Regions from separate parts of the Homo sapiens genome. Here all the other regions are linked to region 1. The links come from fine-mapping of genetic effects on gene expression. A gene starts in region 1. Each other region holds a variant in brackets. All regions are shown on one strand. Distances are between the middles of the regions.

Region 1 (4,099 bases):
ACTGCAGCTTGTACACCTGGCCTCCTGAATGTCTCTGCTACTCACCCCTTCCTCCCCTGTTCAGGCCTCCACCCTGATCCAGCCCCATCCTCTCCTGCCTACCTCGCTGCCTACTTCCTCCATGTCCACCTGAACACTCTGGCCTTTGCTTCCCCCATTTCAGTTCTAATCTCTCCCGGCTATCGCTGTCTGCTGTCAGGTTTGTCTCCCTTATGGAAAGGGAACTCAGACCGTGAAGGCATGATCTGCCGCTGTCTGATTCGCCTGTGGTTCCCAGCATTGCCTAGCACTGACAGTTTATTTCAGTAAACGTGTGGAGAATGAATGACTTATAGAGCAGAGAAGGGAGAGATTAAGAGGCACTCAAAGGAGGCGGAGCAGAGAAGGAAACCTTAAGGCAATTTACGAAGAGACTGAGTGGTACCAAGATTCTCTCGCTTCTAGGCCTTTGCAGTGCTTTTGTTTCTTTCTTTTAGAGACGGGGTTTGGCTGTTGCCCAGGCTGGTCTCTAACTCCTGGGCTCAGGCGACCCACCTACCTCGGCCTCCCAAAGTGCTAGGATCACAGGCGTGAGCCACTACCCCCAGCTCAGTGCCGTTTCTTTAAGCATCTCCTCCTCCAGGAGGATAGAGAAACCCCACCCCGCGGCAAGCCCAGGACCCTGAACACCCCTTGCTGTCTCCGGAAAACCCTCTCCTCCGCCCCGCTTGGCCAGAGCGCTTCCTCCAACCGGGCTCAGACCTGTCGATACCCTTGAGCAACTTGCCCACGTTGGCTCTCATCTGCTCAAACATCGCCATGACTTCTGTCGCCTTCCACAACCAGGGCTGGAGGCTAACACTGACCCGGCACGGCGTCCTCAAGGACGGGAACAGGAAGAGGTGGTGGAAACGGAAACGACGTCGTTGTTGTCGCTCCAGCTCCTTGGGTGCGGTAAAGGGAAAGGCTCTAGCAGCAGCCGCCACGCTTTCCGGCTGCCACGTGACTTCTTCCTCGCAGGCGCAATTGGCGCGTGCGCATTCGCGCCACTCAAGCTGGACAGACAGCGTGAGAAAAATCTTACTGGATCCCAGTGCGCAGGCGCCTCTCGTGGCGAGGGGGCGGGGCTAAGCTTTTCCCGGGCCTCACAGACCCAGTTCCAGTGCCGGTAGCGCGGGAGCGTGCGCGCGCGAACTCACCGGGAAGCACCCGGAGCTCTGGCGGCGTGCGCGCGCGTTGTATTGCGCGCGGCCATGAGGCCACGGAGCTCTGCGGGAATGCACGCAGCAGCCTTACGTTTAGGCCATGGCCAAGTTCCGAGGGAGGTGTTCTGAGGTCCCTCTTGCCACAGGCCTGGGCGCCTGGTGCAGGATCCTGAGCTCTCCAGTTTCAAGTCTCAGCCCTTGGTCCCCAGCTCCAGGAGGAGGGTCCCACAAAGCTACTGTGCTCTGCCGGGCAGGGGCTGGGGTGAGGGCTCCTGGACTTCGCCGGATCGCGCCCCGTCTCCATTAGGTTCCGGTCTTGGAGCTGAGGGCGAGCGTCCCATTTGTACTGCCATGAATTATATATTATGTATAGGTTTTGTACACTGCAGGCCTACAAAATGCAGTTATGTGCCATGCATGTGGAGGTATATGTCCTGGGTACATCCACGTGTGTACTGTGCACACAGGTATCCAGGCAGATGCACGTCTACACGCCTGCGCAGTGCAGAGGAGGTAACCCAAGTGCATGTATGTGACAGGTGAACAGGCATGTACACTGCATAGCCATCCCTTTGCAGACCTGCCGCCTTCGGGTTGTGGCCAAACCTTCAAGCACCCAGCAGAGGTTTAGACACTACCTAGGAGACGGGGGCGGGGGTTCTAAGGCACCCCCCTCCAACCCAGTTACGATTAAGATCATTTGCATCACATTTACATCCAGCCCTGGGCCTTGGAGGTTGAGGGTGGTCCCTTGGGTCCCAAGACAAGCTGCCCCTCAGAGGCTCTCAGAGCCCAGGGGACGGGGGGGTGGAGCCCGTTGCACAGTCGTGCAGTGCAGCTGGGGCAGGAAGCGAGAGTGAGGAGGGGGGAGGCCACAGCCCGCGGAGGCAAGGCGGGTGCAGGGCTTCTGGGGACGGAGGGAGGTGCCAGAAGTTGAGCCCTGAGGCCCTGCTGGCCCCTGGGCGCAGGCCCAGCTCAGGCCCCCAGGGATGGACGTCGTGGACCCTGACATTTTCAATAGAGACCCCCGGGACCACTATGACCTGCTACAGCGGCTGGGTGGCGGCACGTATGGGGAAGTCTTTAAGGTGAGGAAGCCCCTCTGTCCCCAACACCCTACAACCAGTGACCTTTAAGGCAAGCCCTCGGCAGGGAGGAGGCTGCAAGAGGGGGTCCCAGTTCTTGACCTTGACTCAGGGATGCTGTGGAGGGACTCTGGCAAATGGAGCCTGCCTGACTGCCAACTTCCCCTTTGCAAGGCTCGAGACAAGGTGTCAGGGGACCTGGTGGCACTGAAGATGGTGAAGATGGAGCCTGGTGAGGAGGGAACATGGAGCTCCTTCCCCACATCCCCACCTTCGCCTCCTGGGACACTGGGATCACCTCCCCTGTAGCTCTCTCCCCATGCGAGCTGCCTTTTCTCTCCCGCCCTCCTCACAGATGATGATGTCTCCACCCTTCAGAAGGAAATCCTCATATTGAAAACTTGCCGGCACGCCAACATCGTGGCCTACCATGGGAGTTATCTCTGGTGATGAACCTCAGACCCACCCTGGCACCCAGCCCAGCCCCTAACCCGGAGTCCCCATTTCTTGATGGGGGTACCCTCAGTTCTTTTTTTTTCTTTTCTTTTTCTTTTTTGAGATGGAGTCTTGTTCTGTTGCCAGGCTGGAGTGCAGTGGCATGATCTCAGCTCACTGCAACCTCTGCCTCCTGGGTTCAAGCAATTCTCTGCCTCAGACTCCCGAGTAGCTGGGATTACAGGCGCTCACCACCCTGCCCGGCAAATTTTTGTATTTTTAGTAGAGATGGGGTTTCACCATCTTGGCCAGGCTGGTCTTGAACTCCTGACCTTGTGATCCACTCGCCTCGGCCTCCGAAAGTGCTGGGATTACAGGTGTGATCCACCGCGCCTGGTCTTGGCACCCTCAGTTCTAACCTTGAACTTCCATTTCTCACCATAACCCGACCTCCCATCCTGGACCCCCATTTTTGACTGGGCTAACCCTACCATGATCCTCACTCCTAAGTCCCACTTTTCTGACCAGAGCAGCCTCTAATCTAATCTCCAATCTAAAATTCCCATTTCTGACCAAGAGTACCCCAAATTGATCTCTTCATAGTAACTGAATTTGAAATCAACTCCCTTGAAACGAAGCTCTCACCATTCTGCTCTTTGGCTCACCCAGTTTCACTCTCTGCTCCTTTAATATAAACTCCTAAATTCCCTGATCCCCAAATTAATATTCCAGATGCCCCAATAATGACCTCTGCTCCCCAGAACAGGTGCCCTGGGCCCCTCTGTCCCCTCCAAATCTCCACAACCCGTGAGATCTCTGCCCTGCCTCCTAGGTTGGCGTGGGACGGCAGTGGGGTCCCGCCCAAAGGCCTAGGTTTGAGTTGACTTGCCCCGGAACTCACATTTCCTCTCTGAGCCTTAACTTCCTTGTCTGTAAAATGGGAATGAAACAACCTCACTCTGGTAGACAAGGAGAGGTGGAGTGATGAGAGCTGTTACGTTAAAGTTCTTATTGAACTAGAACAAGACAGAAGCAAACCAGGGGCTTTCCTGCAAATAATAATGTATTTACTGCTATTATTATTCTTACTCTTGAACCACTGCAGGTTGCAGAAACTCTGGATCTGCATGGAATTCTGTGGGGCTGGTTCTCTCCAGGACATCTACCAAGGTTAGAGAAAGGACAACGGGACCCAAGCACCCCTCCCTATCCCCACCCCCCAACCCCGACCCAAATTCACCTCTTCCGTCTCTGTGTGTGTATCTCACAGGAACTGTCTTTCTGGGCCATATTTCAAACTCCTGGGCTGAGCTGATCCTCTTGCCTTCAGCTGTCGAAGTGCTGAAACTACGGGCTTGAGCCACTGTGCCTGGCTTTTTTTTTTTTTTTTTTTAA
Region 2 (4,099 bases), 70 kb after region 1:
CACACACACACACACACAAATTTAGCTGGGCATGGTGGTGCGTGCCTGTAATCCCAGCTACTCAGGAGGCTGAGGCAGGAGAATCGCTTGAACCCAGGAGGCGGAGGTTGCACTGAGCTGAGATTGCACCACTGCACTCCAGCCTGGGCAACAAGAGCAAAACTCCGTCTCAAAAAAAAAAAAAAAAAAAAAAAAGGAAAGGAAAGGGAAATCATGATGGAGTAAATAGTAAATAGAAAACATTTGGGCAATGTGGGTGAAAGGTATTCAGAAATTCTATGTGCTGTTCTTGCAACGTCTCTATAAACCTGAAGTTATTTCAAAATAAAAAGTTAACAAAATGGTAACATTAAAGATCAGGGAGTAGTAATAGCAGCTAACATCTCTTGAGGACTCACCATATTCCAGGTACTGCCCGCACTGCCCATCCTCACAATAGTTAATAGTTGTTTTATTTTTATTTTTATAGATACAGGGTTTCACTAGGTTGCCCAGGCTGATCTCGAACTCTTGGGCTCAAGCGATCCTCCCACCTCGGCCTCCCAAATTGCTGGGATTATAGGCATGAACCACCGCACACTGCCAATAGTTAGTGGTTAATGTGATTATCCTATCCCCATTTTACAGAGTAGGAAACTGAGGCTCAGAAGAAAAGATGGAGAGTTAGGATGGGAGAGGTGGTTAGAGGAGGAGGAGTGGGTTTCTGAATAAGGATGTTCCAGCACTTCCCTCCTAGCAGGCTCATTATTTAGACTTGGAATGGTCTAGTTAGTGACTGCCTCCCCCATTAGACTATAAACCCATGAAAGCACGGGCTGTGTCTATCTTGGTCATTGATGCGTCAATAGTGTCACTACAGGCCCTACACAGAGAAGAAAGCCAGCCAATGTTTATTGATGGAATAACTGATGCCTATTCACAATAATGATAATGTTATGACTATCAATAAAGATAACAGTAATAACGGTTCTCATCTGTGTTAATGCATTTCATCCTCAAAATAACCCAAGGGGGCTGAGCGAGGTGGCTCATGCCTATAATCCCAGCACTTTGGGAGGCCAAGGTAGGAGAATTGTTGGAGCCCAAGAGTTCAAGAGGAGCCTGGGTAATGTAGTGAGACCACATCTCTACAAAAAATAAACTTAAAAATTAGCCAGGCATGATGTCACACACCCGTCGTCCCAACTACTCAGGAGGCTGAGGTGGGAGGATTGCTTAAGCCAGGAGGTCAAGGCTGCAGTGAGCTATGATCACGCCACTGCACTCCAGCCTGGGCAACAGAGAAAGACCTTGTCTCTAAAATGAAATAAAACAGAATACATATAACCCAAGGACTGTTTTATCCTCATTTTACAAACAAGGAAAGTGAGGCTTGCAGAGATGTCTCTTGCCTGAGGCAGCCAGCCAGAAGGGTATGGCTGGCCCTTGGCAACCCCACCCAAGTCCTGGGCCCACACGATGTCCCACACCCACCTTCTGGAAGTCCTTCTTGGAGATGAGGCCACGGGGATCCGTTACGTAGTCCTGGAAGGCTTCAGAGCCCACAATGTCCTTGAGTTTCAGGAACATGTCGAAGAACTTGAGGATCATCTCCACATTGGATGAGGATTCCACGAGCATGTCCACCATCTGCCGGGCGATCATGCCGTTCACCACGTTCCCTGCAGGCAGCCCCAGGTCAGTGTGGCCGGTGAACACTCCCTTCTGGGGCCCCACCAGGCTTGCCTCTCTTTCCAGCCCAGGAGCCACCACGCTGCTGGAGTGTCCCTGGCCAGCCACAGCCTCCCCTCCACAGGTCCCTTCCTGACCTGCGTCAGCCTCCTGTGCCAACCTGGCTGATCCTGCCTTTGCCCACCTCCCCCAGTAAAGCTAATGATGTCAGGTCGGACGTGGTGGCTCACGCCTGTAATCCCAGCACTTTGGGAGACCGAGGTGGGTGGATCACTTGAGGCCAGGAGTTTGAGACCAGCCTGGCCAACATGGTGAAACCCCGTCTCTATTAAAAATACAAAATCAGCTGGGCGTGGTGGCATGTGCTTGTATTTCCAGCTACTTGGGAGGCTGAGGCACGAGAATTGCTTGAACCTGGGAGGCGGAGGTTGCAGAGCCGAGATCGTGCCACTGCACTCCAGCCTGGGTGATGGAGTGAGACTCTGTCTCAAAAAAAAAAAAAAAGATAATGATGATGTACGCTAAAGGTAGGTGCCAAATGCTACCCTGGCACAATCACACAAAAAGGGAAGTGTGTGACTCTACTTTTAGGAAGAGAAACTGAGACA[T/C]AGAGAAAGTCATGCACTCAAAGTTACATAGCCAGTAAAGTGGGGAGAATGGATTTGAACTCAGAGCTGCATGACCTCAGGGCTTACACAACTAAAACTTCCACCAGTACACACAGTCAGGAGGGTCCACAGAAGACTGAGGCTAGCCAGTGGTAAGCAGCAAGGAGAGGTAGAGATTGGCAAACTGCGATCCCACACTCCCTCTAAAGGCAGCAGCTGAAGCTTGGCTCCAGTTTATTTTTGTAATTTTTAAATTTTAATGTAGGCTGGGCGCAGTGGCTCAAGTCTGTAATCCCAGCACTTTGGGAGGCTGAGGCGGGAGGATCACGAAGTCAGGAGATCCAGACCATCCTGACCAACATGGTGAAACCCCGTCTCTACTAAAAATACAAAAAAAAAAAAAAAAAAATTAGCCAGGTGTGGTGGCGGGCGCCTGTAGTCCCAGCTACCGGGGAGGCCAAGCAGGAGAATGGCGTGAACCTGGGAGGCGGAGCTTGCAGTGAGCCGAGATCGCGCCACCGCACCTCCAGCCTGAGCGGCAGAGCGAGACTCCGTCTCAGAAAAGAAAAAAAAAAAAAAGGGATCCTAATATATCCACATTCATCAATTGTTTATCTTTTGCCACATTTGGACATTTGGTTTGTTTTTGGGGTTTGTTTTTTTGAGACAGGGTCTTGCTCTGTCACCCAGGCTGGAGTGCAGTGGTGTGATCACAGCTCACTGCAGCCTGGACCTCCCGGGCTCTGGTGATCCTCCCACCTCAGCCTCCCGAGTAGCTGGGTCTACAGGCACACACCACCACACTAGGCTAATTTTTGTATTTTTAGTAGAGACAGGGTCTCACCATGTTGCCCAGGCTGGTCTCAAACTCCTGACTTCAGGTGATCTTCCCACCTCGGCCTCCCAAAGTGCTGGGATTACAGGTGTAGCCACCGCATCTGGCCTATTATGGCTTCTTCATCAACCCATGGATCCTGACACGATGTCAGATGGGGTTGAGGATTAGGGTCTCCCGGGTCTCAGGGGGCCATTCTCAGGCTTCTCTGAACCTCTTTACTGTTCCCTCACCCTCACTCCTGGGTGTTTACCTTCTAGTAGCGACAGCAACATCACCACCATGTCCTTCTGCAGATCCAGCAGCTCCTTCAGCAGCTCGATCTGGCTTGAGTCCTAGAGATCCCAGCTCGGTGAGGGCTGGTCTCAGCATACACCTCCCCCACCTCTGTTGCTTCTCCCCCTCCTCACCTACCCAGCAGGGCCTAAACCCGTTTTCTCCCCTCTTACCTCCGAGGGGACCCGAGTCCAGACATGTTCCTCGGAAGCAGGGGAAGGGGCAGAGAGACAAGATTGTGGGGGTGGGGTTGGCACTTGGGGGACGGGCTCGATAGGTGATGGGTAGTGGGAAGGCTGGCAGACAAGGAGGACTGAGAGGCTTGCGGGGCAGACATTTGGGGCAGAGAGAGACAGAGACAGACAGAGACAAACACTGGGGACAGAGACCCAGGTCTAGGAAGGGATGTGAGCCCAGCACTGTGCCTGGCCTACGGTGGGATTGACAGATGTATGTTGAATATAATGTGTGATGGCAAGAGTGGGACTCTGGGTTCAGGAGGAAGGCTGCAGAGACAGCCATGTGCTTTCTGGTAAGCCGTCTGCGGGGAACATAGGGCCACAGTGTAGGGCCCATAGAAACCTCCAATACAAAGTTTTGCCTCATGGCCCCTATTTATGTTAGGTTGAGTCACATAAAATTGCCAACATGTGATCACTTTTGGCTCACAAAGTGGTAATTTCTTTCTTTTTGAGACAGAGTTTTGCTC
Region 3 (4,099 bases), 90 kb after region 1:
AAAGGAGATGCAATAATCCGTCTCACAGTGTGGCGGTTAAGTGAGAGGATATAGATATCCCCGCTTAGCTTGGTGCCTGACACATAATAAGCATTTGATGAATGGCTGCCTGCTACTGTCAGCAGCAGCGGCAGCAGCTGCGCCATCTGCATCACAATTATTTATTACTAAGCCTGTCATTAGCCTACATGAAGCTTTTGAGGGAATTACAGAAAACCTCCCCACTACTTCTGTCTGTTGGAAATTTGTCATACATATGGATTTTTTTCATAATATACTGATTTTATTTGAGCAAGACACTTTCTTCTAGAAAAGCCTAGTTAATCTACATTGTCTGTGATACGAACCCCTCAGACATGCCCTTGTGAAGTGTTCAGCCATGCAACGGTGTATGTTGGCTGTGCCTGTCCTAGCAAAGTGACATTTACGTTCCTTTTCTTTTCTTTTTGAGACAGAGTCTCGCTCTGTCGCCCAGGCTGGAGTGCAGTGGTATGATCTCGGCTCACTGCAACCTCCGCCTCCCAGGTTCAAGCGATTCTTCCGCCTCAGCCTCCTGAGTAGATGGGATTACAAGTGCCCACCACCAAGCCTGGCTATTTATTGTATTTTTGTAGAAACGGGGTTTTGCCATATTGGCCAGGCTGGTCTTGAACTCCTGGGCTCAAGTGATTGCCTGCCTCAGCCTCCCAGATTGCTGGGACTACAGGCGTGAGCCACCGTGCCTGACCAGCAAAGTGATATTTAAAGATCCGTCTGTCTTGGGCTCCCCCAGGACCTGGAGGGCCTCTCCTGAGGCACAGGGAAGCTGCTGGGCTGGGGGTGGCCCCAGGACCTTGGGGGCATTTCTGGGGCCCTGGCAAGAGTCTTCACCTCTTTTCCGTCAGGGCAGTGCGGCTGAAGTGCAGGACCAACTGGTGCAGGGGGTCTGGCTTCTTCTCTTCCACCTCTTCCTCCTCCTCCTCCTGCTCCCCAGCTTTCTGGTGGGAGAGGGGAGACTTGGGGAGAGGGTTTCTAGAGTCCCCTCCTGTCACTGCCCCCATGTCCCTGTTGGTCTGGATTTTTTTTTCTCTTTTCCCACATCCTGCGCCCTACTTTGGTTCTACTCAAGCCAGGAGCTGGCATTTCTATACCCCTTGATGTGGAGGGCCGACCCCTGGAGGTGTGCCAAGGGTGGCCTCCGCCCCAGCCCTATCCAGCTCGCCCCCCACTCCCCCAGGCGGGTCCCAGCTCACTGAAAGGTCATCTATCATGCGGTCCTCAAAACTGTGGTCTTCAGTCAGGATCCATGCAGCCTTGTAGCTCTCCAGGAACATGTTACATGCCCGGTGCCTGCAGGGGAGAGGTGTGACGTCACTGGGACGCGCCCTCCTCCGTGCTTCCCGACCTCCCATGCGCCTGCAGCCCCCAACCACCCTCAAGGCCCCATCACGTTGGCCCTCCATTCTCCAGACTCTCCAGCCACCCTTTCTCCGCAGCCCTTCACGCTTCCCTTGTCCCTGGGGGCCTTACGTGGGCAGGTTGTACAGGGGCGTCATACGGAAACAGGCCACGACTGCCCGCCGGCGCTGTTTGGACAAAAGCTTGTGCCACACGGCCTTCTTAGACTTGTAAGGGTGCTCGGTCTGGGGAGGGGATAGCAGGACAGTCACATCCCCAGACCCTGCCCCTCTCACTCCCAGCCCTGGATGAAACTGCCCAGCTGTGTCGAAGTCCATATTCAGGTTAAGACTCACACGGCAGAAGGAAAACCTTGTCTCCACCAACAGAGTCAGGGTCCTGACTCCGCCTCCAGACCTAAGTTTCCATCCTAGGCCAGGTCCCACAGAGCCAGGACCACGA[G/C]CCAGGCCACGACCAATTCTACGACCCACCCAAGGCCCTGCCCACAAACTCAACGCATCTCCTCTAGGCCCCACCCCTAGACCTAAAGATCTGCCCCTTCCCTGTCCCGCCCCCAGATGCAAGATTAAGCAGCAGACCCCTCCCCCGATCCATTCTAAGCCTCGCCTTAAACTCGAGGCTCCACCTCCTGCCCTGCCCCAAAACTTAATAGTCATCTCCAGACCCCACCCACATCCTTGAAGCCCCTCCCCCCGCCAGGCTCCGCCCAGAGACCCAGTAGAAAGACCCCTCCGGCCCCACCCACCTGGTCCAGGTAGTAGAGCACGGCTGACACTTCCTGGACTCTGCGCACGATTTTCTCGGGGTCATCGGCGTCCTCCTCGCGACCCGGGACGCCCCGGTACAGAGCCATCTGCCAGCGCAGAGACGGGGAGCCTTCGACCTGAAGGGAGGAAGAAGGAGTGGCCGGCGTGAGGGACCCTTCCCACAGTGTCCGCCGGATGTCCCCTTTCCGTTTTTGGGAGGACTCAATGGGTGAGTGCATGTTGAGGCCTTTCTTCTTCTTCATCTTTTTGTTTTGAGACGGAGCCTCGCCCCATCACCCAGGCTGGAGTGCAGTGGTGCGATCTCAGCTCACTGCAACCTCTGCCTCCTGGGCTCAAGCGATTCTCCTGCTTCAGCCTCCTGAGTAGCCGGGACTACAGGCACCCGCCATCACACCCAGCTAATTTTGTACTTTTAGTAGAGACGGGGTTTCACCACGTTGGCCAGGCTGGTCTCGAACTCCTAACCTCAGGTGATCTGCCCGCCTTGGCCTTCCAAAGTGTTGGGATTACAGGCATGAGCCATTGTGCCCGGCCTAATTGTTGTATTTTTAGTAGAAACATGGTTTCGCCACATTGGCCAGGCTGGTCTCAAACTCCTGACCTTTGAGGTCTTTCTTCAATGCCTGGTCTTTGGTAAATGCTCAAACCTTCACTAATATTGTGGTTACTTTCTGACTTGCTTCTTTTGCTTGCAGAGGAAGGAGGCATACCTTTCCCTGAAGGTGAAGGTTGTTGTGCAGAAATTCCCGGACCTCCTCATCTGTGTCTTTCTGGGGAGACAGAGCCAGGCTGGGTCACTCTGGAGGTCCCATCCTCCTTCCTGACCCACAACCCTTTCCTTCCAGGCCCAGCACCCCAGGAACTGAAGAGGTTTTTCTGGGGTGGGGGTGGGGGTCTGAGAGAAACAAAAGGATGCAGAGGTTGACGGGGTCAGAAGGGGTCCTAGAGGGGCCGGAGGGTCACAGAGTCACCTTGAAGATACAGTAAGGATTCGAGGGGCCTCGTGGAGGTCTGGGAAGAGGCAAAGGGTGACAAGAGGATCTCATCAAAGGTCAAATATGGCCAAAGAGGGATGACTGGGGGGTCAGAGTGGGGCAGGGAGTCTTTGAAGATCAGAAGGGGTCAGCAGAGGTCATGGGGGATCACGTAGGTCAACGGAGTCACTGGTTACACAGGGGCCAAAGGGGGCATCAGCAGGGTGGGGGTTCACTGGGGTTCTAGGACGGGGAGCCCTCAAGGACCAAGGTGAGGGGTCCATGGAGCCCTGGAGGGCTCTCTGGCGTCCTGGCAGGACTCAGCAGTCCTGGGAGGTGCCTGAGGTTCTGAGGGAAGGGGTGTCCTGGTGGTAGCAGGGGAGAAGTCGGTGGTCTTTAGGGGTCCAGGGGGTTAGTAGGTTGTCAGGGTGTTGGTGTGGTCCTGGGGGGAGGGCTATAGGGGTCTTGGGGCAGAATCCTGGGAGGGTTCCTTAGAGTCCCTGAAGCTGGAAAGGATCGGAGAGGAGGGAGATTGTCCTTGTTGTCCCACACAAGGGGTAAGTGGGGTCCCGGGAGGCCTCCTTGATATCCCAGCAAGCTTAAGAGGTTCTACAGCCCGGGTATTTTGGTCTCCAGGACAGTTGAGACCTCAGAGGTTTGGGTACAGTCCCGGGCTTGGGGTTCATGGATCCTGGGGAGTTATGCAGGGTCGCAGGGCTCCCTGAGCCCCTGAGAGTCTTGGGGGCTTAGTTGGGCTTCAACAGGGCCCAGGTGTCAGCAGGGTCCTGAAGGAAAGGGATGGTGAGCCAAGGGCTCAGCAGGAACCCAGAGGTTCAGTCTTGGCAGGGAGGGAAGGAGGGGTCATGAGGGTCTCAGTAGGTCCCAAGGGGCTTGAAGGGGCCTTGGTGGAGGGTTCAGAGGATCTCAGGGGCTCATCTTGTTGGGGGGACTCTCAGGGTC

What was found.
Region 2: its variant is fine-mapped to the expression of MAP4K1 in whole blood (TOPMed, PIP above 0.99). The same link has a PIP of 0.9 or more in blood mononuclear cells.
Region 3: its variant is fine-mapped to the expression of MAP4K1 in whole blood (TOPMed, PIP 0.91).

The regions. Positions count from the first base shown.
Region 1 is chr19:38,615,970-38,620,068 of GRCh38, reverse strand. It overlaps MAP4K1 (mitogen-activated protein kinase kinase kinase kinase 1), which reads left to right and starts at 2,116. Exons shown (of 31, transcript NM_001042600.3): 1 at 2,116-2,272; 2 at 2,444-2,501; 3 at 2,625-2,715; 4 at 3,810-3,874. The coding sequence starts at 2,174. It overlaps EIF3K (eukaryotic translation initiation factor 3 subunit K), which reads right to left and starts at 881. Exons shown (of 8, transcript NM_013234.4): 1 at 742-881. The coding sequence starts at 800. RefSeq lists an enhancer at 1,543-1,592.
Region 2 is chr19:38,545,795-38,549,893 of GRCh38, reverse strand. RYR1 (ryanodine receptor 1) reads right to left here. Exons shown (of 106, transcript NM_000540.3): 88 at 3,368-3,449; 89 at 1,474-1,661. Among named protein-coding and RNA genes, the nearest start is that of MAP4K1-AS1, 49 kb to the left of the region's middle. The variant T/C (reference allele first, on the strand shown) is at 2,280.
Region 3 is chr19:38,525,829-38,529,927 of GRCh38, reverse strand. It overlaps RYR1 (ryanodine receptor 1), which reads right to left. Exons shown (of 106, transcript NM_000540.3): 72 at 2,876-2,935; 73 at 2,144-2,281; 74 at 1,510-1,622; 75 at 1,233-1,329; 76 at 871-977. Among named protein-coding and RNA genes, the nearest start is that of MAP4K1-AS1, 68 kb to the left of the region's middle. The variant G/C (reference allele first, on the strand shown) is at 1,840.